Linked DNA regions of Homo sapiens. The protein of the gene in region 3 purifies or fractionates together with the protein of the main gene of each other region. This does not show direct contact. Each region holds a gene or a part of one and is shown on either strand. Other genes may lie near its edges. The genes, in order: TBCA, MSRB2, COX17, TALDO1, HADH and SQOR.

Evidence for each region.
Region 1: the proteins of COX17 (region 3) and TBCA fractionate together in Homo sapiens (co-fractionation; one large-scale study listed by BioGRID). This does not show direct contact.
Region 2: the proteins of COX17 (region 3) and MSRB2 fractionate together in Homo sapiens (co-fractionation; one large-scale study listed by BioGRID). This does not show direct contact.
Region 4: the proteins of COX17 (region 3) and TALDO1 fractionate together in Homo sapiens (co-fractionation; one large-scale study listed by BioGRID). This does not show direct contact.
Region 5: the proteins of COX17 (region 3) and HADH fractionate together in Homo sapiens (co-fractionation; one large-scale study listed by BioGRID). This does not show direct contact.
Region 6: the proteins of COX17 (region 3) and SQOR fractionate together in Homo sapiens (co-fractionation; one large-scale study listed by BioGRID). This does not show direct contact.

Annotation. Positions count from the first base shown.
Region 1 is NC_000005.10:77,702,924-77,707,893, reverse strand, and holds part of TBCA (tubulin-specific chaperone A), read left to right. Parts: intron 1-4,970. UniProt on the Homo sapiens protein: Tubulin-folding protein; involved in the early step of the tubulin folding pathway.
Region 2 is NC_000010.11:23,108,251-23,113,220, forward strand, and holds part of MSRB2 (methionine-R-sulfoxide reductase B2, mitochondrial precursor), read left to right. Parts: intron 1-1,991; coding exon 1,992-2,068; intron 2,069-4,970. UniProt on the Homo sapiens protein: Methionine-sulfoxide reductase that specifically reduces methionine (R)-sulfoxide back to methionine.
Region 3 is NC_000003.12:119,668,619-119,674,205, forward strand, and holds the end of COX17 (cytochrome c oxidase copper chaperone), read right to left. Parts: intron 1,048-5,587; 3' UTR 914-1,047; downstream 1-913.
Region 4 is NC_000011.10:759,494-764,463, forward strand, and holds part of TALDO1 (transaldolase), read left to right. Parts: intron 1-628; coding exon 629-760; intron 761-3,850; coding exon 3,851-4,026; intron 4,027-4,253; coding exon 4,254-4,451; intron 4,452-4,794; coding exon 4,795-4,940; intron 4,941-4,970. UniProt on the Homo sapiens protein: Catalyzes the rate-limiting step of the non-oxidative phase in the pentose phosphate pathway. Catalyzes the reversible conversion of sedheptulose-7-phosphate and D-glyceraldehyde 3-phosphate into erythrose-4-phosphate and beta-D-fructose 6-phosphate.
Region 5 is NC_000004.12:107,991,862-107,996,831, forward strand, and holds part of HADH (hydroxyacyl-coenzyme A dehydrogenase, mitochondrial isoform 2 precursor), read left to right. Parts: intron 1-4,970. UniProt on the Homo sapiens protein: Mitochondrial fatty acid beta-oxidation enzyme that catalyzes the third step of the beta-oxidation cycle for medium and short-chain 3-hydroxy fatty acyl-CoAs (C4 to C10).
Region 6 is NC_000015.10:45,640,486-45,645,455, forward strand, and holds part of SQOR (sulfide:quinone oxidoreductase, mitochondrial), read left to right. Parts: intron 1-4,970. UniProt on the Homo sapiens protein: Catalyzes the oxidation of hydrogen sulfide with the help of a quinone, such as ubiquinone-10, giving rise to thiosulfate and ultimately to sulfane (molecular sulfur) atoms.

The DNA.
Region 1 (4,970 bases), on a different chromosome or scaffold from region 3:
GCATGAGCCACCACACCTGGCATAGCTAAGATTTGAACACAGGCATTCTGGCTCTAGTATCTGTACTCTTAACCGCTAAATTCTACTGTCTTTTCCAATTTTAAGTATCAGATATAAAAATGGACTAATCTTATATTAATTATATATTTAGATTCACAAATATTGTCTCCACACTGATGTGAAGACTACAAAAATAAAATACGCATTGCACTTTTCAATGGCTACTTGTGATTGTCTTCATGACAAATTTCAGTGGCCTTAACATTGCATACAAGGCTCTTCTTGATTTTGAATCAAGAAATGAGGTTACATCTGCTTATCTAACCTCATTTCTTACCAATCCCTGTCTCAACCTCTTAGGTGCCTTATAGCTCCCTGAACATGCCCTTTCTTCTTTGCCTCTGAAATTTTGCATGTCTGGGATGCTCTTACTCCTGGCCTTACCTACCCTCTCCTTATTAATTTCTGTTCTTCCTTGAGGTCTCTTCTACTCTCACCTCAAACTGAGTTAGGTGCCCCTCCTTTTTGCTCCCATAACACTTTCTTTATTCCCATGATAGCATATATTGAACATTCATTCTCAGCTGACACTTGCTTCATAATTCCTTGAGAAAATAGAGGCCGTTAGGGAACTTTCTCATATTCTTACGACAAAATCTGTCAACCTATCTGCATCTGTACCTGTACCACTTTCCTTCCTGTAAGAGTGGACTATGTGCCCTAGCCCTTGTTATAACTATCAGTGACATTGTTATTACTCTTTTTTCCCTCATCTTAAATACCTCAATAGCATCTGACACAAGTTACCACTTTCACCTTGAAACTTGACATATCCTCTGAGGTGTTCAAAATTAAAATCTTGATTTCACACTACTCCAACCTACTCTCCCAAACAAAAAACAATTTCTTCTTTCTTTTTCCTCATCTCAGTGAATGGTACCTCCACTCATCCAGATACTCAGGTCAAAAATTTAGTTGGTCCCTTCTTGATATTTTTATCTCTTTCTCATAACCACATCTAATATCAGCATCATCTCCTATTTCTTTTTTTCTTTTCTTTCTTTCTTTTTTTTTTTTTTTTTTAAGATGGAGTCTTGCTGTGTCACCCAGGCTGGAGTGCAGTGGTGCAATCTTGGCTCACTGCAACCTTTGCCTCCTGGCTCAGCTGATTTTCCTGCCTCAGCCTCCCAAGAAGCTGGGATTAACAGGCATGCACCACCACGCGCAGCTAATTTTGTATTTTTAGTAGAGACGGGGTTTTGTCATGTTGGCCAGGCTGTTGAACTCCTGACCTCAGGCGATCTGCCTACCTTAGCCTCCCAAAGTGCTGGGATTACAGGGGTGAGCCACCGCACCCAGCCAGCACCTCCTATTTCTTACTCTCTCTATTTTTCTCTCTATTGCCATTGTTCTAGTCTAGTCCACTATCATCTCTTGCTAGTACTATTTATTGCAAAAGCCTCCCTGTTGGCATACTTCTTTCACCAGGAATGGGACATCCTCCATTCCTTCCCCACCACAACAACTAAATAAATCTCTATAAAATGTACCTCAGATCACTTGGTCTTCTACTTAAAATCTAGTGTTAGATGCATTTAAAATAATTTCCAGATGACAGTTTAAAAAAAGGAGAATGTGAACCAGCTTGTACAGACTATATCTTAAAATTTATTTTTAAAATCAGCTTTATGAACTCACAGTCATTTTTGCCATGTAAATCGTGGCATAATTGGTAATCACACTTAACTCAGGCTTTATTCAGCAAAATTAATCAATCATTTAAAATAGAATTTTTTGTAGGGAGTTGCTTTCTACCGTGCAAAAGAAATGCAGCAGCAGCTGAAACAACCTGTTGGCTGTGTCTTCCCTTGGCTATCTAGGAAGATAGCTTTCTTATTTTATTAAGCTTTTAGGAGAGGCCATCTTCCTTTATTTGTGATACAGCACTGTGTGTATAAAAGACATTTGTGTGTCAGATACTCATAAATTGAGGGAGGATTAGCAAACAGATGTGTAGATATAGTATGTCCCCTTTATTTTTTAATATTAATAAATTATATTGGGCAGTGGGATCTCTCTGTGATGCCCAAGCTGGAGTACGGTGGTGTGATCCTAGCTCACTGTTACTGCCTCAAACTCCTGGGTTCAAGTGATCCTCCCACCTCAGCCTCCAGAGTAGCTGGGACTACAGATGTGTGCCACCATGCCTGGCCAATTTTTAAATTTTTTATAGAGACAGGGTCTTACTTTCTTGTTTAGGCTGGTCTTCAACTCCTGGCCTCCAGTGATCCTCCCACCCCAGCCTCTCAGAGTCCTGGGATGATAAGCGTGAGTCCCCCCTACCTGGCCTTGTCCGCCTTTATGAACTAACGACCCTTCATAAGGATTTACATATGGAATGTAACTTTTTATTCTTAAAATTATGATATATACTGCTTTTGTACCTCTTTCACTCTTAAGTCTTCTATTGTTTTCCTACATCTAGTGGGAAAATATTATGACACAGTATATAACTTTATTTCATCCAGGTCCTTCTTGGACTTCATCAGCTTGTTTTCCCAGTCATGTAGCTAGTGACCTCATTTAGTCTTTTTCTTTGCCCTGCTTTTTTTCACCATCAATAATGTATTTTAAAATAGTCCTATAGCTAAAATAGGAGTTATCAGTTACATGGAGTAGAGGAATAAATGTGTTCCCTTTCTAAATAAAATTTTACAAATAAAGTTATGGGTTATCACAGAACCTGTTTTATTTCATTTATAGTTATGTATGTATCATCTTTCAATGAAATCACTACTTTATAGGTAAAGATTAACTACTGAATTCTGTGTTGTAATTGTCATTTGAAAATACCAGCCACACACTAGTTACATTACTGACTACATACACAGATGTAAAAGGGGAAAAAAAATTGTTCAAAAGTTGTTTCTACCCTCAGACATGTTAAAATTCTCTTTTTGGTCATAGGTATCATATTTTTTAACAGGATTTGTTAGATTCATAGCCAACTTAGTACTTATTCAGAAATAACATTTCATATCTGATTACAGAACAATAGTTGTTTCTGTTTGCTTCTGTTGTCAACCTACCATGTATATAGTTGTCAATTGCAGTTTTGTTTTAGAGTTTCCTAAAAACTTGTCTTTAGCCAACCTACATACATTTCTTAATTTCTTTTCCCTGGCTTAGCTATATTGTGGCCATTCTTTTTTTTTATCATATACAATGGGTGTTGCATAACCAAAAGGACTGCTCTGTTTGTGATTGCCTGGGACTTTAAGTTCAGCAATGGTTTTCTTAACATTTATTGTGCCTTTCATAGAAAATATCAAGACAGCCAAGTGCTGCATTTTGTGGGTTTTCTACACTTCTCCCTAGATTTCTTCCTCTTCTGAGCTAAACACTATCCTCAGTCACTTCTCACTACTTTGGCTCTTCTCTCACTTGGATCCGTTTTGCTCTGGCTTTCCTACTTCTTCTAAATTGGCTGTATTTTAAGCACACAGTTAAGGTGCTATCTCTTATTCTCTACCAAACTCTTACCTGAAGATGGTTGCCAAAAATCAGGGGACAGTCCCTCTGTTGGACTAGTTATAATTTTGGTTCTTTTAAAATAAGTAATTAGGCCAGGTGCAGTGGCTCACGTCTGTAATCCTAGCCCTTTGGGAGGCCAAGCTGGGTAGATCACTTGAGCCCAGAATTTGAGACTAGCCTGGGGCTAGCTTGTTTGCATTAGTCCATTTTCATACTGCTATATAGAACTACCTGAGACTGGGTAACTTATAAAGAAAAAAGGTTTACTTGACTCACAGTTCCACATGGCTGGGGAGACCTCAGGGAACTTATAATCATGGCAGAATGTGAAGGGGAAGCAAGCACCTTCTTCACAAGGCGGCAGGAGAGAGAGAGAGAAGGAGAACAAGTGGGAAGTGCCGCACTTTGAAACCCTCTGATCTCATGAGAACTCACTCACTATCAGAGCATATAGGAAACCGCCCCTATAATCCAATCACCTCCCACCAGGTCCCTCCCTAACATGTATGGATTACAATTCAAGATGAGATTGTGTGGGGACACAGAGTAAAACCATATCAAAGGTGAAACTCTGTCTCTACAAAAAATAAAAAAATTTTATTAGGATACAAAAAATTAGCTGGGTGTGGTGGTGTGCACCCAAAAGTCCCAGCCACCTGGGAGGCTGAGGTAAGAGGATCACCTGAGCTCAGGAGGTCAAGGCTGCAGTGAGCCGTGATCATGCCACTGTACTCCAGCCTGGGTGACAGAGTGAGGCCTTGTCTCAAAAAATACATAAAATAAAATAGAAAATTTAAAAATAAGCAACTAGGTAAAAGTTTTCAGGAGGCTAGAATATCAGTCAATTAAAGATTTATTCTGTCTTTTTTTATTTTCTGGCTAAACAATATAACACGTCATTCAAATATTGCCCAAATTGATTTTAGCCTTCTGCTTCTGATATCTCTCTTCTTCTCCACCAATTAGGGTTGGGTACAGAGGGTTTTGCCCTCACTTGGTAAAGCTTTCTGGTTTGTTTTTCAACCTATCCTGGGGCATAATGATTGGCAGTAATGACACTCAGTCAGACATATCTCTGTCATTTCTCCTGAGGCACAACTTATCTCTTAGGTTCCAGAAGTAATAAGACAAACTGGTATAATTTTTGGACAAAGAGTTCTCAGTTTTCTCACAAAAGAGTTTTCACAAAAGCTTTGCAATTATTGCATATAGTTACAGTAATGTAAAATTCATCTTTTTGAAAAAGATGTATATGCTTTTTTTTACTCTTTGAAACAAGAGTGAACATTTACAATGACATGTTTCTATGTTTTTCCTAAAAATAAAGGGGAAATGTTTTTCATTAAATATATGGAAAATATTAGGAGGCTTCAGTCAACAAAGAAGATCCCCCTTTGACCAGGAGTGTCTCACAAGGCTGATCCTCAAAGAAAAAC
Region 2 (4,970 bases), on a different chromosome or scaffold from region 3:
CCTGGCCTTCACTGATGTTTTAATTTTTATTTTGCTTACTGTGATAGCAGTTATCTATCACTTCCTCTGTCCAGCTGCCCCCCTGCAATAATGAAATTATGTTTTGAGTCTTTCCAGGCTGTCTGGATCCTATGAAAAGGCTTTTCTAGATCAGCCTTAGGACTGGCAGTCCTGTTTTGCATGCATTCATCTTCAGCCCAGGTGGGAAGGATGGGAAACTTCCTCTTTTTTTTTTTTTTTTTTGAGATGGAGTCTGGCTCTGTCGCCCAGGCTGGAGTGCAGTGGCACAATCTCGGCTCACTGCAACCTCTGCCTCCCAGGTTCAAGCAATTCTTCTGCCTCAGCCTCCTGAATAGCTGGGATTACAGGCGTGCTCCACCATGCCTGGCATTTTTTTGCATTTTTAGTAGAGATGGGGTTTCATCATGTTGGCCAGGCTGGTCTTGAACTCCTGACTTCAGGTAATCCACCTGTCTCGGCCCCCCAAAGTGCTGGGATTACAGGCATGAGCCACCACACCTGGCCAACTTCCTCTTCTTCACAGCTGCTAACTAGTGCCAGTGTTGGAAGCAGGCATTTGAGGGGACCGGCCATAAAGGACCAGCTCACTACTGTTTGGATTTCTGCAGCTAAGTTTAGGGTTTTAAAGAAGGAAAACATCCAAGTGTACCCAGATGGTAGGCTCAGTAGGTTAATTTGAAATTGTCTTTTATACAGCTCACTGCAAATGTGCTGTTAATACTACCACAGGGAATTTGGATGTTTAAACTGTGAATTTTTTGAGTTGGGAAGCCTGGAGGGATCTGAAGATTTCCTGAGTCAGCTTTGTCACTTGGTGAGCTGTTCTGTGCTCTGGCTTTCCTCTGGCCCATAGGAGGGGACAGTGCCTGCCGCCAGGCCCTGTGATAGCGGATCTTCATGGTCAGCTTGTGCAAGGGTTGTTTTTTATTTAATTTTCTTTGACAGGGGAGATGACAAAAGAAATTGGGCAAAAATGGTCTTTAAAAAAAAGTCATCAGCCGGGTGCAGTGGCTCATGCCTGTAGTCCCAGCATTTTGAGAGGCCAAGACATGCAGATCACTTGAGGTCAGGAGTTCGAGACCAGCCTGGCTAACACGGTGAAACCCCGTAAAAGTACAAAAATTAGCCAGGCGTGGTGGCGTGCACCTGTAGTCCCAGCTATTCGGGAGGCTGAGACAGGAGAATCACTTGAACCTGGGAGGCAGAGGTTGCAGTGAGCTGAGATCGTGTCATTGCACTCCAGCCTGGGTGACAGTGAGACTTCATCTCAAAAAAAAAAAAAAAATCAAGTTTGAGAAATAACATTTTAAAAAATATTGACTTGGCTAATTCATTGACTTGTCTCCTTGTTCTCCTCTCAGAATACCTCTGAAAACTTGCAAACCCTGTAACCCACAATGAACGCAGTAATTTCATCTAAGTAGTAACCTGGGCACTGAGGGGGTGGGGAATCTAGCTCATTATTTAACATTTATTAAGTATGCTGTGTCCTAAACATTATGTGAAGCATATTAAAGGCAAAATGCCTGATCTCACTGAACTATGCTTTTTATGTATTTATATTCTGTCTTTAATTGGAGATTTCAAAGTATGTTAGACAGTGGACTAGATTCCTGTTGTATTAACTCTTTTAAAAGGGAGACCGAAATCTCACACAGTCACAGAGGACAAGACTCTGTTTTCTTGCTTTTTCACCGACTTTGATGCTCTTGGATGAAAAGTCCTGTATGAATACAAAGATTATCAAAGTCATAATTTGAATATTGGGTGCAATAAAGCCCAGGCTGTAAATACATCTGCAGGCTGCTTCATTGGGTACATTATAATTTTCTCTCTGGCGTTATTTGCACTTCGTCAAATTAGTACAGAAATTCCTTGATTTGGGGACTTACCCAGGATTTAAATCTGCTGTTTCAACTCCTGCCAGTAGTATGAGAAATCTGAACATGACATATCTAATTTACTTTCAGCCTTTCAGTGGGATCTACCTGAATAACAAGGAAGCAGGAATGTATCATTGCGTGTGCTGCGACAGTCCACTCTTCAGGTAAGATAAAGAATTGAGAGCCACGGAAGGAGACCAAACCTCCAGGTTCTTACTGCTTTGTTTCATTTGAGATCTTGGATAAATAAATACCCATAATACCCATTTTGTTTTTTAAATTGCTCTTCTCATTTTGCATTGTTGCTGTAAGGAGAGCTATTCATATAAGATACTTGCCTGTCTTGACTTTTTTTTCTAGCATTTAGAGCCATTAACAAGACTTCTTAGCTTATATTCTTCCTTTCTCTATCCTCAAGAAATAGCAAGGAAATAAAACTCAGTGGGCCCCTTATGATAAAGCTATTAGAGTTTTTTTTTTTTTAGAGGGAAAGTATTTAAAGAAATCTAAACCGTGATTATATTTGCTGGGCCATGTGATTAAAACTCTCTCCCAGGGAAAATGGGTTTATAATTTAATTTAGGAAATGTAGAATTTTATGAGGATAGATTCCCCACAATGCTTGACAGTAGCGAATACCATACCCTCTTCTATATAGCTAAAAGTAAACTTATTTGTCCCTTGATTTCAAAGCCTCTTTTAAGTCAATCAGGATCTGAAATCTCTCAACAAAGGCTTTTTTGTTTAGACATGCAGGAAACAGTCTTAAAAAAAAGTAGATTCGATGGAGAAGAAAGGAAAACATCTTTGAAGTCCTATTTTTCAGAACTTCAAAGATGTTTTCCTTTCTTTTGCATCAACCCTAAATTGGTTTAGAATAAAATATAAATCAAGCCAGCTCTGTGCATTGCCCATTAGGCAGTGCTTCCTTCTGTCCTCTGGGCTTTGAGCAGTCTGGGCCTTCCTGCCCGGCTGGCTGCTAATGTGGGCTGCCTTAGGAAGCCGGACCCGCCTGCAAGGATGAGGAGCGATTAGCATCGATTTTCCTCCGTGCTCACAGATGGGCAGGCCTTTGCCCGGATGCATTCACGTTGGCATGGGGGAAACTAGAAGGAGGTTAATTTTTGCACAGTAAAATGTGGGACTCAGGTTTCTGAGACAATAGTTATTTCTTGACCTTTGGTTGTGTTAAAGAGGAGAGGTAGGATTTTGAGATGGCCCATGAGCTTTCAGCCATAGAACCATGCTGCCAGCGTGTCAAGGGCTCCCTTGTTACCGCAGGCACCAGGCAGTGCTCTGTCTCCCTCTTTGCACTGTGAATACAGAAGATAAATCATCCTCGCAAGAGCATTCTCTTAAATCACAGTCTTCACTCTTCCCCTTCCTTGATGTTCCGGTTTCTGCATCTGAAAAAGGGGGGGACTTCTTCCCTTCCTTTCACCTTGCAGGCTTAGTTGTGGTGTCAGAATACTGGAGCCAGGAGGGTCCTGAGTCCAGAGCAGAAAGCTCTGTCCAGTAGAACTTCCTGTGGTGATGGAGATGTCTGTATCTGGCCATGTGGTAGCTGCTCATCACATAAGCTTGTTAAGCACTCAAGGTGTGGCTAGCATGGCTGAGAAGCTGACTTTTTCAATTTAATTTTAATTAATTTAAACTTAAATTTAATTTTAATTAATTTAAACTTAAATTTAATTTTAATTAATTTAAACTTAAATTTAATTTTAATTAATTTAAACTTAAATTTAATTTTAATTAATTTAAACTTTAATTTTAATTAATTTAAACTTAAATGTAATTTTAATTAATTTAAACTTAAAAGGCCACATGTGGCCAGAGGCTACTATATTAGCACAATGCTAGTTCAAATTAAGGAAGTTAAGTGACCAACTCCAGGTCCTGGAGGTTGTGAAGCAGCCAAGACTAATAGGAAAACCAGCCGATTCTCCAAAAGCCCATTGACCAAGTGGCCAGTTTATGAGACTGCCAATTCACTAACTTTATTTGTTTTTGTGTAACCATTTAGTTTGAGCTGAAAAGTTTCCATTTTGCATTCTTAAAGACTTCTGAGTTTGTTTCTCTTCCCCTTTCCTGTTGCTGCTACTGCAGCTGAAGGAAATAATATATTCCTGAAGATTATTTATGTTCCAGAATATACTATTCTTAAAGATGCACTCATTTATGGGAGAGGCAGTAGAATGGTTAAGATTGCCAAGGTGTATATCCTGGCTCCATTGCTGTGTGACCTTGAGCAAATTTCTTAACCTTTCTGTGTCTGATTTCCTCACCTGTAAAATGAAGATAATAGTACCTAATTCATAAGGTTGTTGGGAGGATAATCTGAGTCATGAATTAATACATGGAAAAGCATAGAGCAATGCCTGACATGACTGACTCAGGCCAGGCACTTGATGCAAGTTAGTAATGATGTTTTTGTTGTTTTGTTTTGTTTTTTGAGATGGAGTCTCGCTCTGTCGCCCAGGCTGGAGTGCAGTGGCGCGATCTCGGCTCACTGCAACCTCTGCCTTCCAGGTTGAAGCGATTCTCCTGCCTCCTGAGTAGCTGGGATTACAGGCGTGTGCCACCATGCCTGGCTAATTTTTTGTATTATTAGTAGAGACGGGGTTTCACCATGTTAGCCAGGATGGTCTTGATCTCCTGACCTCAGGTGATCCACCCGCTTTGGCCTCCCAAAGTGCTGGGATTACAGGCGTGAGCCAGCGCACCCGGGCGTAATGATGTGTTCTTAAGCAATAGATCCCTCTTAGGGCTGTATACATGAATGCGCTTTTGATCCTGAGGAATTCTGGAGGATATATTCTAATTAATGAGAACATACAAATGCAGACTATATTCCTGAGACTTCTTCCTGTTCAAGAGGAGTTTTAGAAATATATTCTGGTTTTGCCTCTCATTTTCCTTCTCTTTCTGTCTCTGGTCTCCAGTCTCTATAGTAGGAAGCAGAGGTACAGAAAAAATAATTCCTTCAAATGCTTGTGTGGAGTGAAAGTGAAGGGAAAGTTGGTCAACCAAAACTAAGTAGTTCTTTTAACAAGTAAATGCAGGGCT
Region 3 (5,587 bases):
TGAACCTAAGTCTGTCATACATCAAAGCCATGCTCTTAATGAATTAGGAAAGAATCTTAAGGAATCATCTGATTCAGCTCCTTATTTTATAAAGGAGGGACTTTTCCCATCACACAATGATACATGAACATTATACATCCTCTTAATTATGTTCTCAGTATCTTTTGTTCTTGAGATTTTAGACTCAATGTACTTACAAGCAGAATATGATCATACTTCATTAGCCCATCAGCAGCTACGAGGATGACAAGGTTGCTATACTAAGGAAATCACACTCTGTTCAACTCCAGGCATCACCATGGCATAGCACTGAGCTGTTTGATTAGTGACATTTAATACCAATTCAGTCTCTAGCCTAATTAATTTCTAATTAATTCTAATTTCTAATTAGTTTCTAATTAATAAGAGACAACTGTCTACCCTGTAGGCACGAAACTTAAGATCCTAGTCTATTTTAAAATGTAACTACCCATGTACAGATTCATAATGCCAAACAGTTGAGATCTTCTAAGCCAAATTACCCTAATCTGGTCCAAAATCTAAACTAACTTTTCCAAAAGACAGCTAGTAAAGAATAACAATAATGGTTTAAATAATAAGACTAAAGGCTTGTTCTTACCTTTAAGAAAGTTAAAAAAAAAAAAAAAAAGAGTGTTGAATGAGATGATATGGCTACCACACTGATTCTGAATTGGTAAAGGGTTATTTTACTTCTATGCACCTAATTCTGGAGATTTCATTGGTTGAGGTCAGTATCTGCTTTCTCCTGACAACAGATATCCAGAGTTCCCAGAATGACATAGTAATAAGAACATAAGAACCTTATGTTACAAGATTTGTTGGTATATATCCTTTGGGGGAAAAAGCCACGTGAGCAAATGAGGAACACAAAAAAGAAACACAACTGAAGATCTTCCACTAGTAATATTTTACTTTCTTCTTACAATAAATTATAAATACTTTTTCCACATATCAAAGTTCGTCAAAGAACTCCCAAAATTAATCTTCTTCATTCTTCAGGAATTATTTATTCACACAGCAGACCACCTACAGAAAAATATTTATTTTAGAAAGTCAGATTTCAAACATCATGCCAGATCTATGGAGTCAGGGAATTAAGACCACTAGAAATGAATGCCTCAGATGAGTAATTAACTAATTGCCAGAATTATTCCAAATCAGTCATAAAATTCAAAATCAACATTTTAAAATTCTAGGTTTGCCTAACTAAAAACATTAGTGAAATTATTCATGATATTATTTACTCTTTAAAAGTTTTTGAAGTAAAAACTCTCTCTGCGTGTATATATATATAATACATATGTGTGTGTTTGAGAAATACATATTTCTCAAAAATATCCTCCAAAAAAGGCTAAAGCAGTTATTTTTACAGATATTCAAGAAACAAGACCTGCAAACCCCTCTTTGCTGATTCAAGTATGCCTGGCGAAGATCCACAAAGTAGAAGGCAGAAGGTCAGCTCAGTACCCAAGGCACTTCCTGTGGAAAGTTACTCACTTAATCCCAAAGGCAAGACAAGGGCAACCCTTTAATATTCATTTGGAAAAATCAAAAAGGGAGAGTAGCATAGATAGGGTTGCTGATCCAGTCAAGTCAATACCAGGCTTCTCACACCTCTCCCAGTGCCTATCCCAGAAGATTGAGAACAATGCTAGGAAGGTAATTAAATTGGGGTAGCTAACTCTTCAAGTCTAATGCAAATATTTCCTTCATTTAGCTGTTCACTTCATTTGGTTTAAATAAAGATAAACCACATCAAGATACAAACATCTAAACTCTTTTCTAAAAGACTCAAAGGAAGAATACATTTATAGAAAAGTTTGGAAAGATAACCAAAAACGAAGCCATTCAACCTTTCAATTATAGCAGCCCATAGCATTGTTACGACTTTTGCGACTGACTACATAACAAAAGGGGCTGTGTGGTGGAAGACCCTGGATTTAAACCTGTTTGATTATATCTCTGGATGTAAAGTCTTTGACTGGAGGGATAATCTTTCTCTCCTCAGTATTTTCCAGGGTCTTAATAAATATCTGCTGAATGAACAAATGTTTGAATGGCAGAAATTATTCTTTCTGGATTATCTTGGGATATTTTCATACATGATCAGTTTTGTGTGTGTGTGTGTGTGTGTGTGTGTGTGTGTGTACAATTCAGCATATTTTAAGCATCCAACTGTTAAGTTGTTAAACTTAATATTGAGTATCACCACTATTCAGTACTAGTCCTTTAATTTCTTTCAACGACTTTAGTCTCCAAAATAGGTTCTTTAGGCTTCTTCTGTCTCCTAAAGGCAGGAAGATAGTAGCCATCTATTTCCTCATATTTCTAATGAGGTTCTAGGTTCTTCTAATTACTCTTTTCAGTAAAAGCAGCAGTCATAAAATAGAAAAAAATTGTCTAAAATCACCACCATACCTATTTTTTCTTGAGTTTTCAAGTCTCTGCCTTTGCTACTACTAAATTTTCAGATACTTTATGCCTAGCATTATCCCTGCTATTCATCTTCAACTTAGGCCAGTGGTTGTTAAAGAGGAGTGCACTTGAAAATCATCTAGGAGTTTCTCAGTCAACAGGTGCAGACCAGGGCCCAAGTTGTGAATTCTGGAAAACATTCTTCAGATGATTCTGAGGTGCACCTCTGGGTAAGAACCACTGGGTGAATGTAGCCTACTTTCAGGTAAGGTATAAAAAATGTATAATAGATTTATTCCCAATCTACTGCACTTGAGGTACAATTAAGATCTACTTAGGAATAACATTAAAATCTACAAAGGTTTTTGAATTAAGGAACTTTCATGATCGTTGCCAGAGAGATCTAAGTTTGCAAAATATTTTTCCTTTGAAGCTATTCTCAGAAAAATGTGATCTAACAGTCTAAGAAATACCGATTTAGGTTAAGTTTATCTTATAGCAATGCAGACAGTTGTGTTGGATTTCACCCTCCAGCCAATGGCCTGTTTACTGGGTTATATGCAACTGTACATTTCCGCAACAAGTCTTTCTAATTAGCATTCATAATGAGGTTTTAAGATTGAAGATCAAGATTATGTGCAATCCTAAAAATGAATATGTTGGAATAAAATCTCATTAAGTACAAGGCGTGAAGTGTAAAGTGCCTGTGATTTAGAGAATATAAAAATCTTAACTCTAATCTAATTCTACCACTATCCACTCCTAACTTGAGCAAGTCTTTTTTGACTTCACTGTGCTTCCATTTCCCCATGGAGGTTGGGGAAATAGGACACCTGGGACCAATAAGGATCCAACACCCAGTCCTCTTCCCAAAATATTATTACACTGAAAATGAAAAACATGGCAGTTTGAATTCTCAGAAGGGTCCTATATGGATTCAGATTGTTCTTCTTGTAACCAGGATTCAATAATAATCAAGTCATATACTTAACAGACCTCAACTGAATGTCTGCTATCCACAACTCTAAAGGTATGAGCTATTCTGTTCTGGTTTTTACAGATGATTTATTTTACATTGAATCATCACAACTCTATGAAGTAGTTTGGGCATGTATTATTGTCTCCATTTTACGGATGAGGAAACCAAGGTACAGAAAGTTAAGGACCTGCCCAAGACCACACAATCAGTTAAGCAGTAGATTTTCTAAGTCTAAAGCTTTTGCATTTTCTTTTACACACAAATGAAGTACACAAACATAATTCTCACTCTCTGCCCTGATAACATAAAGAAAACTATGATATCATATGATACTTTTGAATATATGCCACTTATAACAATTGTACCACCTTTGTGGTTCAGATGAAGTCCAAGATAAGCTTTTGATATTCCTAAAATTAGCATTTCTTTTTATTTAATCACCCCTTTTTATCAAGGCAAGTTCAGCACAAGCCTACAGCTTACACAACTGACGAGGGAGTTAGATCATGAACAAGGAAACCATGTACAAATGTTAAGGTTGCATCTTTAAAAATAGTTAATAAAGTACACATACTTTTTAAGAACACACTCCCCTTCAAATTTACTTATTTTATAAAATAGTTCATTATGGGATTTCTTTAAATAACCATCTATTCTAAAAGCAACTTAAGTATATCATTTACACAACAGTAGATATACCATACTATATATAGAATCACAAAATGTATTATGGTTCTCTTTTTATAAATAATAAGTGAAATTCAGAGGAGTAATGTCTTGATGAAGCTAAATGTAGCTAAACTTAAAAACATGATAAACTAAACATCAGGAGAATAAAAACAAAGCCTCAGGACTTTCAGCCTAGACTGTTTTCCATTACACAGTAACTTCTTATCAGCTTGCGACAAGTTCCTTATCCCTCCTTTTTTATAGCTCAGTGAGGAAGACTGGCCATATGTGAAATTCCAAAGAGGCAGGAAAGAGGTGCAAGGGAAAGAAGCCAGGCTCTCTAGTACTAATATATTGGCATATGGCTTTGGCATTCTCTCTCAGCTGTTATTAAGTTAAAAGTGGTAGTGTGGTGTGGAAGTTAGGGTAGGGGCAAAAAGCAGAGGGAATCGGCATGGAGACTGAGGCTCCAGTTCTGATACTGCACAACCCACCTTGGGGGCCATTTCATAACTATAAGCTTTAATTTCCTTATTTATTCATTCATTTAACAATCCTCCATTAAGCACCTACTATGAGCCAGGCACTGTTATAGGTAGTGGGGATATGACAGTAAATGAAATAGAAAATTCCTACTTTCTCAGAGCTTACATTCTAGCTGCCGTGAAGCAACACAGGTAATTAAAAATATATGTATCATGCAGGTGACAGTGTATAGAATAGAGTAGCCACTAGCCACATGTAGCTATTAAAATTTTTACAAACTAAAAATTCAGTACCTCACTCTCACCAGCCACAATTCAAGTGCTCAACAGCCACATATGGCTAGTGGCTACCAGACTGGCAAGTGCAGATACAGAGCATTTCCATCTTCACAGAAAGGTCTTAGGACAGCACCATGATAGAGTGATGGGGAAGGGATGTAATTTACATGGGGTGTTGAGGGAAAGCCTCTCTAATAAGGAGACTTTTGAAAGAGACCTGAGTAAAGAGGGAGTGGGGTGAGGGGGTGAGCTAAGTTGATAACTGAAGAAAGAGCTTCCAAACAAAAGAGTATCATTTGTTTGTGGAATTGTTGGACACATACCACTTAAGGTCCCTTTCAGCACTTAAAATGGGTTAAGAGTTCCAAGTTCTTTTAAAAATGGCCTGAGGCCCACCGCCCTGTCTGGGATGTCAGGAGTGCCACTGCCCGGCTGCCCACTGTCTGGGAAGTGAGGAGTACCTCTGTCCGGCCACCCCGTCTGGGAAGTGAGGTGCCTCTCCGCCTGGCCACCACCCCATCTGGGAAGTGAGGTGCCCCTCTGCCCGGCTGCTGCCCCGTCTGGGAAGTGAGGAGCGCCTCTGCCCAGCTGCTGCCCCGTCTGGGATGTGAGGAGCGCCTCTGCCCAGCTGCCGCCCTGTCTGGGATGTGAGGAGCGCCTCTGCCTGGCCGCCCCACCGTCTGGGAAGTGTGGAGCGTCTCTGCCCAGCTGCCCACTGTCTGGGAAGTGAGGAGTGCCT
Region 4 (4,970 bases), on a different chromosome or scaffold from region 3:
TCATGATCCACCTGCCTCGGCCTCCCAAAGTGCTGGGATCACAGGCATGAGCCACTGTGCCCGGCTGCTAGTGTTTTTTGTTTTGATTTGTTTTGTTTGTTTTTTGAGACAGAGTCTCGCTCTGTTGCCAGTGTAGAGTGCAGTGGTGTGATCTCAGCTCACTGCAACCTTCACCTCCCGGGTTCAAGCGATTCTCCTGCCTCAGCCTCCCAAGTAGCTGGGACTACAGACACCCGCCACCATACCCAGCTAATTTTTTTGTATTTTTAGTAGCGACAGGGTTTCACCATGTTGGCCAGGATGGTCTCGATCCCTTGACCTTGTGATCTTCCCGCCTCAGCCTCCCAAAGTGTTGGGATTACAGGCGTGAGCCACGGCACCTGGCCCAGTGTTTTTTAATACAAATTATAGCCTATGGATCCCACTGAGGACCTCTGTTTGTGAGACTGGGTGTGAGTTGCTGTCAGAGCCATTCTGCAAACCTCCAGTGAGGGGAAGGTTGAGGGCAGTGGTTGGTGCTCACGGTGGTGCTGCTCAAAACTGACAGGCAGACACCCGGCCTCCAGCTTGCTCTGCGTGGTGGGCAACCTGCGTGATCTGAGGGGATGGGTTCTTCTTGCTCCTACAGGCTCTCCTTTGATAAAGATGCGATGGTGGCCAGAGCCAGGCGGCTCATCGAGCTCTACAAGGAAGCTGGGATCAGCAAGGACCGAATTCTTATAAAGCTGTCATCAACCTGGGAAGGAATTCAGGCTGGAAAGTAAGTGGTCCCCCACAAGGAAGGAGCTCTCAGAGATTTTTCCTCTGTTGGAGCAGGGTCTACATGGCATCAGGCAAGTTTGACTCTCTCAGCCCTGGGGAATGCCAGACTGGGGAGCACAGCCCACAGCTTGGACTTGACCAGCTCATGTCAGCCTAGATCTGCCCTCTGCTCCAGAGCCAGCTCCCTCACTTGCTGGTGATCAGAAATGAGGGATTTCCCAGGAAGTACCATCCACCCACTCAGCAGAGAAGAAAAGCCACTAGTTAGCACCTGCAGATTCAGATTCTGTCCTTCCTCTGTCCTGATCAACACAAGCCTATGTTTACATGATTTTTAAAAAGTAAACTATTGTTATATAAAATATATGCTGGCTGGGCAAGATGGCTCATGCCTGTAATCCCAGCAATTTGGGAGGCTGAGATGGGAGGATCACTTGAGCCCAGGAGTTCCAGACCAGCCTGGGCAACAAAGTGAAACCTTGTCTCTACAAAAATATAAAGAAATTTTAGGCTGGGCACGGTGGCTCCCAGCACTTTGGGAGGCCGAGGCGTGGGGATCACGAGGTCAGGAGATCGAGACCATCCTGGCTAACACGGTGAAACCCCGACTCCACTAAAAAATATAAAAAATTAGCCGGGCATGGTGGCACACACCTGTAGTCCCATTTAGGAGGCTGAGGCAGGAGAATTGCTTGAACCCAGGAGGCGAAGGTTGCAGTTAGCTGAGATCACACCACTGCACTCCAGTCTGGGTGACAGAGCAAGACTCTGTCTCAAAAAGAAAAGAAAACTTTTAGGCCGGGCACGGTGGCTCATACCTGTAATCCTAGCACTCTGGAAGCCTGAGGTGGGTAGATCACCTGAGGTCAGGAGTTCGAGACCAGGCTGGCCAAGATAGTGGAACCCCGTCTCTACCAAAACTACAAAAAATTTAGCTGGGCGTGGTGGCAGGTGCCTGTAATCCTAGCTACATGGGAGGCTGAAGCAGGAGAATCACTTCAACCTGGGAGGTGGACGTTGCAGTGAGCCGAGATTGCACCATTGTACTCCAGCCTGGGTGACAGAATGAGACTCCATCTCAAAAAAAAAAAAAAAAAAGAAAAGAAAAACTAGCCCACCCCTGTGATTCCAGCTACTTAGGAGGCTGAGGCGGGAGGATCGCTTGAGCCTGGGAAGTTGAGGTTCCAGTAGCTATGATCGTACCACTGCACTCCAGCCTGGGTGACAGAGTGAGACCCTGTCTCAGAAAAACCAAACCAAACATATGTACGTTCAGAGTGGAAGAGACAGAAAATGTATAAAACAAAGTAAAACTCCTCTATGATGTTCTCACCCAGAAGCAGCCAATGCTATACTCAAATAATTCGCATCAGGAAGAGGTGTTTTGTTTCCACATCTGTGTGTCTGCATGTTCTACCACCTGCCATCACTGACCTGCTCTGAGATAGCATCTCACTTTTTCACCACGGCTGGAGTGCAGTGGCACGAACTTGGCTCACTGCAGCCTTGACTCCAGGCTCAAGCTATCTTTCCACCTCAGTCCCCCAAGTGGCTGGGATGACAAGCACACATACCACTCCTGGGTAATTTCACCACGTTCCCCAGGCTGGTCTCGAACCCCTGGGCTCAAGAGATCTCTACCCATCTTGGCCTCCCAAAGTGCTGGGATTATAGGCATGAGCCATTGTGCCTGGCCTCATTTGTGTGTTTTTTTGTTTTTTTTTGTTTTTGAGACGGAGTTTCATTCTCGTCCATGCTGGAGTGCAATGGTGCTATCTCAGCTCACTGCAACCTCCACCTCTGGGGTTCAAGAGATTCTCCTGCCTCAGCCTCCGGAGTAGCTGGGATTACAGGCAGGCGCCACCACTCCCGCCTAATTTTATATTTTTAGTAGAGATGGGGTTTCTCATGTTAGTCAGGCTGATCTCAAACTCCCAGCCTCAGGTGATCCGCCCGCCTCGGCCTCCCAAAGTGTTGGGATCACAGGTTTGAGCCACTGCACCTGGCCGGACCATTTGTTTTTATATGTTGGAAAATACTCCATTTTATGGATAGGCCACAGTTATTCATCTGTTGGTGGACACCTGGTCAGTTTCCATCTCTTGAGCTGTGATGTATATTGCTGTGGTCGGTTTCCATTTCTCGGGCTGTGATGTATGCTGCTGCTCTGAACACATCTGCTGCTATGAACACATCTGCTGCTCTGAACACAGATGTGCAAGTTTTGTCCTGGACATGTGTTTTTGTTTCTCGTGGGCATATGCCTAGGAGTGGAGTCTCTGGGTGACTGCTGGAGGAACTGCAGGCTGTTTCCCAACTCAGCTGTGCCATCTGCTGTCCCCCTCGAACACCCCCGTGTGGCCATGTGGCAGAGGCGCCTGGGGAGGGAACTTGTGTCTGAAGGTGCCTGAGCAGAGCCTTGGCTGTCTCATCCCATGCCCCAGCCACATGGCAAAGTATGGGCACTGCTCCGTCCTTGGGGATCAACCCCAGGATGTCCAAAGTGCACTGGGATTTGGGCAAGTGGCCTAGTGAGGCCAAGGGGCTCCTCTCAGCAGAAACCAGGGTGCTACGGGCCTGCTGCAGGGTGGCCCCAGGAATGGGTAGGGTGGAACAGGGTGAGGACTGGAATGTGGTCAGAGATGACTCAGTGGTTCTAGCCTGGGAGCTGAGCCCTGGTGAGTTCTGGGATGAGGTGACGGCCTGGCGCAAGAGCACGGGCACCCAGAGGGCCTCCCTTGCCTTTGTCTATTGTGTCATGTGGGTTGGAGAAAATCCTGGTCACCCATAACCCACTATCCACTTAGAGCCCTCGAGTCTTACCGATTTGTTCTTAACAATGGCATGAGCCTGTTCCTGCCTTTTTAGTTTAAGGCCCGTGAGCGTCTTTGGCAGCCTGTGGCTCTGGGTGGGCACCTGGCCTGCATTCACCTGCCCCGCCCTCACCTGCCCCGCCCTCACCTGCCCCCGCCCTCACCCGCCCCCGCCCTCACCCATCCCCGCCCTCACCGTCCCCGCCCTCACCCGCCCCCGCCCTCACCTGTCCCCGCCCTCACCTGCCCCGCCCTCACCTGTCCCCGCCCCGCAGGGAGCTCGAGGAGCAGCACGGCATCCACTGCAACATGACGTTACTCTTCTCCTTCGCCCAGGCTGTGGCCTGTGCCGAGGCGGGTGTGACCCTCATCTCCCCATTTGTTGGGCGCATCCTTGATTGGCATGTGGCAAACACCGACAAGAAATCCTATGAGCCCCTGGAAGACCCTGGTGAGGGTCCCTCTGTGGTAATGGGGTAAGGGGAGCAGCCTCAGCAGCACCTCAGGCAGGAAGAGCCCGAGACGGAGCTGCCGCATCAACAAGCAGTGAGGTGCACAGGTCGGCGCGGGGCAGGCAGGGGTGGCGGCTCAAGGTAGTGCAGCCGGCAGGCACTGGGAGGGCAGGTGGGGTGGTACCTCTGCCGAAGCCTTCCTGGTCACAGCTTGGTCTCTTTCCAGGGGTAAAGAGTGTCACTAAAATCTACAACTACTACAAGAAGTTTAGCTACAAAACCATTGTCATGGGCGCCTCCTTCCGCAACACGGGCGAGATCAAAGCACTGGCCGGCTGTGACTTCCTCACCATCTCACCCAAGCTCCTGGGAGAGCTGCTGCAGGACAACGCCAAGCTGGTGCCTGTGCTCTCAGCCAAGGCGGGTGAGGCCCCACTGCCCAGCTGTGGCTCCTGCTCGGGCAAGGCCAGCACTGCCGTGCCACGCTGCCCTGTGGGTGATCCCTCCCACCTGTGGGGCGAGCTCATCTTGGGAGACATGAGGGTGAAGTAGACCTCAACGGAGGGCTTGGCTTTCCTAACACATCTCACTCAAGTCATCAGCCAAGGCTCTGTGGGCTGAACCCCACTTCCAGCGTGAGCCTTGCTGGGGCCAAGGCCTGGCCCTGGTGGGAGATGCTTGGGTGCAGCAGTTCAGGCCCTGAGCCCAAGGGGCCAAGGTGGGCAGGGACATGGAGCAGGCATGGAAGGCTGGTTCTTGTCCCCCAGCCCAAGCCAGTGACCTGGAAAAAATCCACCTGGATGAGAAGTCTTTCCGTTGGTTGCACAACGAGGACCAGATGGCTGTGGAGAAGCTCTCTGACGGGATCCGCAAGTTTGCCGCTGATGCAGTGAAGCTGGAGCGGATGCTGACAGTGAGTGTTGTGTGTGGGTACCTACATATG
Region 5 (4,970 bases), on a different chromosome or scaffold from region 3:
GAACATTATGGGAAATGGATCCAGAAACTTGTGGCTGGTGTCCTTGAAGACAGCAGTGGAAAAAGATTAGAAACTAAGTAGAAAGCGTCACTTCAACTTTTGTAGAAAATCAGAGTGCTTAGTTCTTTGAATGCTGCATCCATCATTGGCCAAAAATGGATGTTGTGTTGCATTAAAAGGCAGAGGGGCAATACCTAAAATTACAGGTATGGTGTTGGAGCTTTCACCTGACAAAGGAGTAAGGAGAAATGATTGACATTAATGGAGAACACAGGCTTGTGCTTGTCAATCAAACTCTTAAATAGGTGGACCAGGGAGTGCCTTTTGAAACTTAAGGGAAAAAAAAGCTATTTATGCCATAGGCTGGACACATAATGGAACTGTCATTCTGAAAGGTTATAAAGACCAGAAATCTATAAAGTGGACGACCATAAGAAACAGTTCCATCCTTATGTAACACAGTTTGGAAAAACCTCAGTTACTTTAGTTGACAGCTCCAATCCTCTAAAACATTTGTGAGCAATGCTTTGCAGTGGTTTAGCTTATCTGCTTTTGCACCCTACCCTGTAGCATGCAGTTCTAGGCAGTATTGCTTCATTCTTTATGCTCCTTGACCAACAGCTTTTGGCATAGGGTAAATCTGTTTTGCTTATTGAGTGCCAGAGACGAATTAGTTGATGTGTTTTGAGTACAGATGGGCTACAGTTCAATATAAGAAGTTGGATGGTCTGCATGCTAGCTCTGCCTCATGCAGTATTAACATGGGACTTTACCTCTGTGTCTCGGTTTTCTCATCTCTAAAGTAGACTAATGCTAGTACTGGCCTCGTAGGGAGAGAATTGAATAAATTCAATGAATTCATGCATATGTCAAGCAGTTACATATATCAAGCATATGTCAAGCACTTACACAGTGTCTGGCATGTAATAAGAGTTCACAGAAAGTTAGCTGCCTTTATAATAATTATCTTCGGCCCGGCATGGTGGCTCAAGCCTGTAATCCCAGCACTTTGGGAGGCTGAGGGGGGCAGATCATCTGAGGTCAGGAGTTCAAGACCAGCCTGGCCAATATGGTGAAACCCTGTCTCTACTAAAAATACAAAAAAATTAGCCAGCATGGTGGCATGTGCCTGTGGTCCCACCTACTTGGAAGGCTGTGGCAGAATAGTCTCTTGAACCTGAGAGGTGGAGGTTGCAGTGAGCCGAGATCGCACCACTGCACTGTAGCCTGGGCAACAGAGCGAGACTCCGTCTCAAAAAGATAAATAAAAAGAATAATCATCATCTTCATTGCAGTTGTCCTGTCCTTTTGCCCTTTTCCCCTCATATCCACTCCCATCCTGATCACAGCTGCTGAGGTAGGCCTGTAAGGTTTAGATGGAGAATATTGGTCATGATTCCCTGTTTCATCTTGCTTAATCTTGAATGCATATACCCGCTGATGCTGCAGCGGGTATGTTTTTTCAGGGACCTCTGAAAGGAGGGAGAACACTTTTTAGTTACCCCCCATTTTATTGTTAAACTTTAGTAAAGCCATAAAAGTACAATCACAAACTAGTATTGAGGTTATGTTACTGATTTTCATTAGCTTAATTTTCTTGAACTTTCTGACGTGGTTTTAATGTTAGTCAAGGTGCAGTTCTGCTTATAATTTTAATAGTTTTGTCATTTTAAACACGTCAGTTTGTGCTCAGAAGGATGAAAAAATATTTAAATAGATTTTGTGGGAGCCTGATGCATTTCTCAAGCAATTAAGCAATTTAAGACAAGTTCAGTGCTTAATTACATTTGATCAGAGCACAGGCCATTTGTACATGTGTATTTTCCGAGAGTATCTACTTTGCCTGTCATTTCTTTTGTTTGTTTTAAATTAAAAAAACAAAAAATCCCTTAGACTGCAGGTTAATATTTGAAGTTAACTTGTTTCATGTGTTTGCTTATTACACACTTCTGACTTGGTTTTGATTGCTAATTTATCTTCACTGGATACTTAGGCCAATAAAGAAGCTTATAGGATTAAATGAGCCTTGAGTGGGGGACAGGTTGTTTTTTTGCTTTATAAAGAGGAAAACAAGAAAGGAAGAAAGCTGGTAGCTGTGTGCATTTCTCCAGTATTGAATCCTTTCTAGGCTTTGCTTCATACATTGGGTTTTTTCATATGAGGAGCCCAGAGAGAATGCATAGCTTTCATTAGATTACTTGTGAGGAGCCAGTGGGCTCCCTGGGAACGGGGCACTTCAGATGTCCCCCTTGAGACACTTTACATGCTCTCCGGGTGCAACCTTCTTTTTAGTGCACTACTCTTCTTTGAGGAAGTGAGAAAGTTTGCATCTTAAAGGGGGTTGGGGATAGGTTCTTCTCTCCCAAAGCTTGCTTTTTTTTTTTCCTCCTTTTTAAAAAGCAGAAAGTGCATATTTTTTCTAGAGAGAGCTTCTTTGGCTATTAAAAACAAAGTAAGGGCAGGGAGAGCCTGCTACGTTGCAGGGATTTTGTGTGACTCTACCATGCTTGATAAGGATTCAGGTAGACCTGAAAGCTTCTCCCCAGCCACTGGATTTGTTCTCTCATCTCTTCTTCTTGCCCCCAAATCTGCATTTTCTGATGCTGAAAAAGAGAATGATCAGAGTTGTTTCATATTTTTTTAGCTTTATTCTCTTCTACTGTGAGTACAGCTCTGTTGAGCTGTACAGTACAGTACTGCTTTGCTTGCAAAGCAGTACAGATGCCTAGGAGAAGTTTCAGGATCACAGGAGACCAGCAGTTACCTGGCTGTAAGCTCTCCTTTTGACTGTTCCTTATGGAGGGAATATTTGTACTCCCAGTTGTTACCTTCCTGCTGAAGGACATGAGATGTGTCTGTTTGTTATGAAGTTTTCCCCCTACTTCCCGAGTTGTTGCTTATCTTTGTTGGGCTGTTCTCTGCTCTTGGTTGAGGTACTGGGATGTAGAACCACCCTCTATTAGCATATTAGTTATTGGACTCTGGGTGAGGTTGGAGATACTGTCATTCCTAGAGGGTAGAAGAGGTAGGGCTCACAGGCAACAGAAAATAATGCTATGGGATATGTTTGGACATTTTTTAGAGCAGAAATGGCACTTCAGTCAGTCAGGTTTTGGCATTTTCCTGCCATGTTCTGCCTCCAGCTTTAATCACTTGCCCCTTGCTTGAGTTTCTTCTTTCTTCCCCTCTCCCTTCTCTCTTATCTGTGGTAGGCACACACACCTCACTCTCTAGTTCTCCTGGGACCACAGGAAGATAATGTGGATGTTCTCTGTGGCTCCCCCTGTTATATTCATGATGTTATTATTTCTGGTAGTGGTATTCTAATCTCAAAAGTACAGGCTATGAGGTCCCTGCCAGGGTTTAGATGCTAGCCTTCCTATCCTGCCTTTAGGAACCTTGGGCAAATCACTTAACTCCTCTCTGCCTCTTTACTTACCTGGGAATAATGAGACTCACCTGACAGCTGTGAAAGTTAAATGAACTAATATACAAGCTCCTAGAATAGCATTAGTGTGTTTGATAGTAACTGTCTGATAAATATTAGCTGCTTTCACATAGACCCATCAGACCTGATCTAGTGAGGATTTCTCTTAGATTGTCTTCACTGTCGGAAGAGTTTTGATATAGGGAGTTCCAGCAATTCTAAAGATGTTAAGACTTATTTATGTGGGTTGTTGAGAAAGATAGTGTACCATTTACTGGTTTTTGTAGAGCTAAAACCACTCTACAAAATATGACACTTTATTCTGTTCAAAGAATTTTGATTTATTTAATTTCATGTGACCATTACAATAATCACCCCTGCAGAGATGGTTCCTGGGGTCAATGGTCAGAGGCAGAGCTGGGGTTAGAACTTGAGTTCTCTTCTGTTCTGCTGCCTGTAAATCCCCAAGCCTGAATTCAGTTCTGCCTGCACCTCTGGCAAGTGCTGTATTGTGGGGAGAAGTGTGGCATCCATGGCAGGGGATCCTCTGTGGCTCTCTGGAATCAGTACATCCCAGGTTGACGTCTCCTTGGCTCTGGACTCAAAGTTAGTCTACCTGCTGGTCGTCTACATCAGGGTGCTGTGCTGCCATCCTTCTGCCCATGGTAGACTCAAACTCACCTGCCAAGATCTAATTCATTATTTCCCCTCCAGCTTTTTCCAGAGAGCTTGCCCCTCCTGTTGCTGCAGTTGTTCTTCCAGCCACATGTACTCTGAAGATGGGATCACAATCAGTGTCTCCATACCAGAAAAGGCTCTGTAACTTTTTGGTCATGGGAGAGCTCTTTCCTCTGCCCTCTCCTTTGCAGTTCCTAGACCAGGTGTGTTAACCTGAATTGTCATGGGAGCCTCTTAATTGGTCCTTTCAGCAAAAACTAAAAGAAAAAACCCACTCATCATGGCAAACATTGTCATATTAGTCTTCCTGGAGAGGCATTTGGATTTATAACTCTCCTCTACCCGGAAAGTGTCCATCATAGCAACATCTTCCAGGGATTCTTAAATATAACGATGCTGTTGACATGTCTGGTTATCCCTTTACCTTTTCAGAATTTGTGGGAGGTGAGAAGTCTGGGAGAGGTTATCTGGGTTATTATGAAACCTACACACTTACTGAATTAAAAAAAAACTATGTAACACAATTCTAGTCTAAAAATGGGCGCACACTTTCTTTGCCTTTTAGAAATACTTTTTGAAATGTAAAATTCGAAGTCTAATAAAGGAGTCTGTCCAATTAATTTAACTGTTTGAAGAAAAAAACCAGTCCAGGCATGGTGGCTTACGCCTGTAATCCCATCACTTTGGGAGGCTGAGGCGAGCAGATCACTTGAAGTCAGGAGTTCGAGACTAGCCTGGCCAACAAAGTTAAACCCTGTCTCTACTAAAAATACAAAAATTAGCTGAGCATGGTGACACATGCCTGCAGTCCCAGCTATTCAGGAGACTGAGGTGGAAGAATTGCTTGAACCCAGGAGGCGGAGGA
Region 6 (4,970 bases), on a different chromosome or scaffold from region 3:
CACAGAAGAGACGTGAGCTGTCTACACCTCATTCTGTCTCAACTATTAAAGGATTGAGTTTAGAGTCTCTCCAACTATGTCCAAATAGCAAATGTATACCTTGAAATTAAAGAGTGTTTTCTCATTATGGTAAGACCTCACACACTGGATTCCAAGGAATGATATACTTGAATGAAATGGCCAGTCCCGTTTACAGTGAACTCCTTGCATGTGAGACTCTGAGTGGAAATCCCAATGCTCCTGAGGCTGATGAGTAATTTTAATGTGGTCATTTAACAAACTCAGGAAAACAAGTTCATCCCTGTTGTGTGACTGGGAGTACACTGATTCCACCTCAGGCTTCTTTTTCCAGTGAGTCATGTCCTACAGTCTGCAGATGGGCACACACAGGCATATACAGACTAGAAAGGAAACCTGAAAATTACCTGACCAGAGGCCAACTATGAGTGGTGGGGTTGAAGGGGAGCTAAGTCGTGCTTCTTTATGTACTAGAATGTGAGAAGTCAGGCTCCCACTGGCTACAGCAAGCAGAAAAACAAGGTGTTCTTTCATTTTTTTTCCCCCTATATAATTCAGTCAAAACTCTTAACTTTCATTTGAAATAATCCAATTGACTGACATATTTTTTCTTTCCTGGAATCTGAATGCAAGCATTTTCCTTATGTAAATATAATTTGTGTTTTCTGCTTAGCAATTGTATTGGTTTGGTGAAATTGTCAGTTCTCTTGTTACAATGCATTCTCTGATTGTAAAATAAGGATAGGTCAGGATAATTTGTAGGAAATTTCTCAGGAGCAAAGGGAGCCACTGTTTCATTGTAAAGTCCTCATTAGCAACTCTTAATCAGTAACTCTGCAAAGAAAATTCCTACAGTTTTGCCCCTGAAGAGTGAGGGAACTAAAGAACCCCAGTGCAGCTCCCAGTCCTTGAATCATCAGAGAGCTATATAGATTGTTCCTATTTCCCCAGTGACTCAGTCCTGGCCCACTACTGGTGTACTTGCTTCACAGCTTAATATTTAAACAAATGTTTGGATTTATAACAGCTCCAGAGGGAGAGTTTCAACATGGCCCTGCAGGGCTAAGTGAAGATTGCTCCATTTTCTTTATTTGTTAACAGTATAGTAATCCAGTTCCTGAACACACAAGGCAAGAATAGCACTGCCATTACTCAAGCAGAGGTGTGCCAAGAGGAAGAGCACAGCTGCTATCCTTTCTCGGAACAACACTCATTCAGTTTTCAAGGGGGGTGCTTTCCTTCTCCCTCACAGTGCCTTGGACCTTTACTCCACTTTGAGTAATTCTAGTATTGCTGCTCACATCCTGTCTTCATTATATTCACCTGAACAAGTGGATATAATGTCATCGTTCACATTCTTCCTTCTTCTTTATCCCCTATAGCTGATTGTCGCAAAAATGTCAATGTGTGTCTCACATTCACACCCCTCATCTCTGTTCCCATTCAGACCCCACCCTCACTGTGCCTGAATTTCTGAAACAGCCGCTTAATGGATCTTCATATTCCTGGTCTTTCCTGTTATAACAGACAGACTCTTCTTACCCATCACTGGCTGTGCAGTGCCTAGCACAATCCCTGGCATTTAGTAAACAATCAAAAATGCTGAACTCAACTGAATTGCTCCAGTTCATCCTCTCAGCTTCCCCTGGGGACTCTTTATAAATCCAGTTTTATTAAGACCTTCCAAGGGCTCTCACTGCCATTAGCAGTAACCACAGGCTGAAATGCACACCAGGGCTGAGCAGGTAACAAATGAACAACATAGGCTGAGTGGGGCTGGAGTGAACTGAAACCTTGTGCATGGTGGAGAAGACCAATGACTGCTCAGCTCCAGCCAAGAGTTTCCATGTGAGAATGTGGGCTTAGTGTTAGAGGCCAAGAATCTGGAATATTTTTTGTCGAGATCTCCAAATTTTTTAATGTTGATGACTAATTCAAAATTCAAGAAAAGCACTGTGAGCCAAGCAAAACACAGCTCTGGCCTGCACTTGGCCTGCAGGTTGCTGCTTTGTGACTCCTAGATCAAATTGCCATTGTCTGGGAATAAGCTCTCAGACCTAAACTTTAGTAACACATGCCTATCCAATCTCATTTCTCCCTCTTCCCAGAGCGCTAGACTGCCCTCCTTTATATCCACCGTTAGGAGATTCTCATTGCAAGTGATTCTCCTTTCAAAATCTTGAACCCAACTGTCCAAAAGTAGCCCGAACAGGTCCCTGACATAACTTCCCTTTTTCTGCTCACATAATTCCTTTTTCTTCAGCTGTCTAGATGTCAACTTTGACTTTTTTTTTTCTTCCAGAAGCCTTTCCCACGTCTTCCGAAATTATTCTCTCTTCCCAGCCTCTATCTTATCTGAATCTTTGTTTGCATTTCTAATGCTAACACCTAATTCAGGAGCTTATCGCTCACACCTGGACCACTCCAATAGTCTCCTAACTGATTTGTCAAAATTAGCCCATGTGAAACTGGTTTTGTTTCTCCTCCAACAGGAGGGTTAATTTGTTCCAACACCAGAAGATTCTCTTACTCAAAGCTGCCCCTTTGTGCGATCACTTTCCAGAACTTTGTTTTCCCATGTAAAGCCTCAATGCCCTAGCTAAAAGAGTGGGAGGGGGTCAGGCCTGGAGAAATTGCTGTCTCTCAGCTTGCATCCTTACATACAGTGGGCGCTCAATGAATACTTGTGGACACATTCTTTTTTCTTTTTGAGATGGAGTCTTGCTCTGTCACCCAGGCTGGAGTGTAGTGGTGCGATCTCGGCTCACTGCAGCCTCCGCCTCCCAGGTTCAAGCAATTCTTCTGCTTCAGTCTCCCAAGTAGCTGGGACTACAGGTGCGTGCCACCACGCCCAGCTAATTTTTTGTATTTTTAATACAGATAGGGTTTCACTGTGTTAGCCAGGATGGTCTCAATCTCCTGACCTCATGATCCGCCTGCCTCAGCCTCCCAAAGTGTTGGGATTACAGGCGTGAGCCACCATGCCTGGCCTGGAAACATTCTTAAACAGCAGCAGAATTGTGACCATGCGAATTTCATGTAAGTCTATTTCACAAAGATACACTTACATATTTAGCATAGCTAAATGTAAGTAATTTAATCGTATATCATTTGCGCAGGTAAAAATTCTCCTAATAAAAATTCAGCTTAGATTATCTTTCCTGATTTTCAGTTCTGCAAACTTAGCCCCTGTGTGATTGAGACAAATTCAGTGTAGGTATAAACCTGAATTTGCACATAGACTTATATGCTGCAGAAAACTTGTTTCTCACCTTCTTTTCTGAGCACTTCTGGCTGATGCCCTCCTTTATCAAGGTTAAATGGATAAAATAGATGTGAAGATTTTTCTTGGTGGAGAAGATATCTTAAGTTTCAATAGAATGGAGGATAGTATATGACAAAGGAAAGGAAGGCCACGTGCTGCTTCTTCTAGAGCGGTTACTGCCTTAAAAACTCAAACTGTAGCTATGTTATTTAGTTGCAAAAATTTATAAAAATTTAGCTCAATCACCCACAAATTGTAACATTCTTCGGTACTATGTAATTAAATTGCATTTTAGAGACGGCATAGAGACGGCGTATTTTTTTTTTCTCCTTTTTGAGACGGAGTCTTGCTCTGTTGTGCCCAGGCTGGAGTGCAGTGACGCGATCTCGGCTCACTGCAACCTCTGCCTCCCAGGTTCAAGCGTTTCTCCTGCCTCAGCCTCCTGAGTAGCTGGGATTACAGGCACCCGCCATCATGCCTGGCTAATTTTTGTATTTTTCAGAGACAGGGTTTCACCATGTTGGCCAGGCTGGTCTTAAACTCCTGACCTCAAGTGATCCACCTGCCTCGGCCTTCTAAAGTGCTGGGATTACAGGCATGAGCCACCGCGCCTGGCTTTTAAGATGCCGCCTGACAGTTTAGTGGATATGTGAGGAGAAGAAGCCGAGCAAAAATGTGTTAAACATGTAAAAGCTTCCATCTGACTGAATAGTTGGCACATGCATTTTAATCTAGATGTATTACAACGTACCTGGGATTTGTTTTAATCAAGTATGGTGAGGCCAACAGATCAGGAGGTGACTGCCATGAAGGAAGAAGCTCTTACTCACAGTTCCCTAGAAACAGGAGGCATAACACCTCACATGGGGCCATATGGGAAAGCACCTGCGTAGGTGAAGGGGCAGAAAAAGTGAGGGGAAAGAACAGGCAAAAGACTGTATTGTGAGGCAGGGGAAAGGGCTGGCTAGGTTTGGGATTGGCTAGTTTGAATAATTTTAGAGTGCTCCAGGATTCATGAGCTGCCTATAGTTGTAGTTGTCTGATGCCTGGCCCTGGAATAATAAGGGCAGGGGAAAATTGCCTCTTGCAGGGTTAAAGCCAAATAGAGGAGGTGGTTCAGAATATGGCTCTGGATTGATTGGTTTACATATCAAAGGTGTGGTCATAGGCAAGCCAGGCAAGCCATTTACCATCTCTCAGAGTTAGCTAGTCCTGGGAGGGGCAGTCTCTGGGATTAGCAAGACCCCAAAATGTCAAACCATAAAAAAATACAGACAATGAAAAACAGAATTAATACAGCAGGATTCAGAATATTGACAGGAAGGGGAAACAGTCAGTTGCCTTCCTGGTTTCATGAAGTATCTAATGCAGTGCCATTGATATGTGCTGTAAATATTACTGGACACGTTACTTGCATGTATTTTGGATTAAGAGGAGATTATGCTAAGGATCTCATTTATGGGCTAATGTTTGGCATTTTCTTGGCAACCAAAGTCATGCTAATCAGGTGACAGTAACAATTTCCTTTTTAAGGTATTTCCAGATTTAGACCCGCCTTCTTAGAGTTTAAGTCAGAGGGTGTGATGGTTAATTTTATGTTCCAGTTTGACTGGACTATGGGGTGCCTAGAAATTTGGTCAAACGGTATTCTGGGTGTGCCTGTGAGGGGGTTTCTGGATGAGAGTAA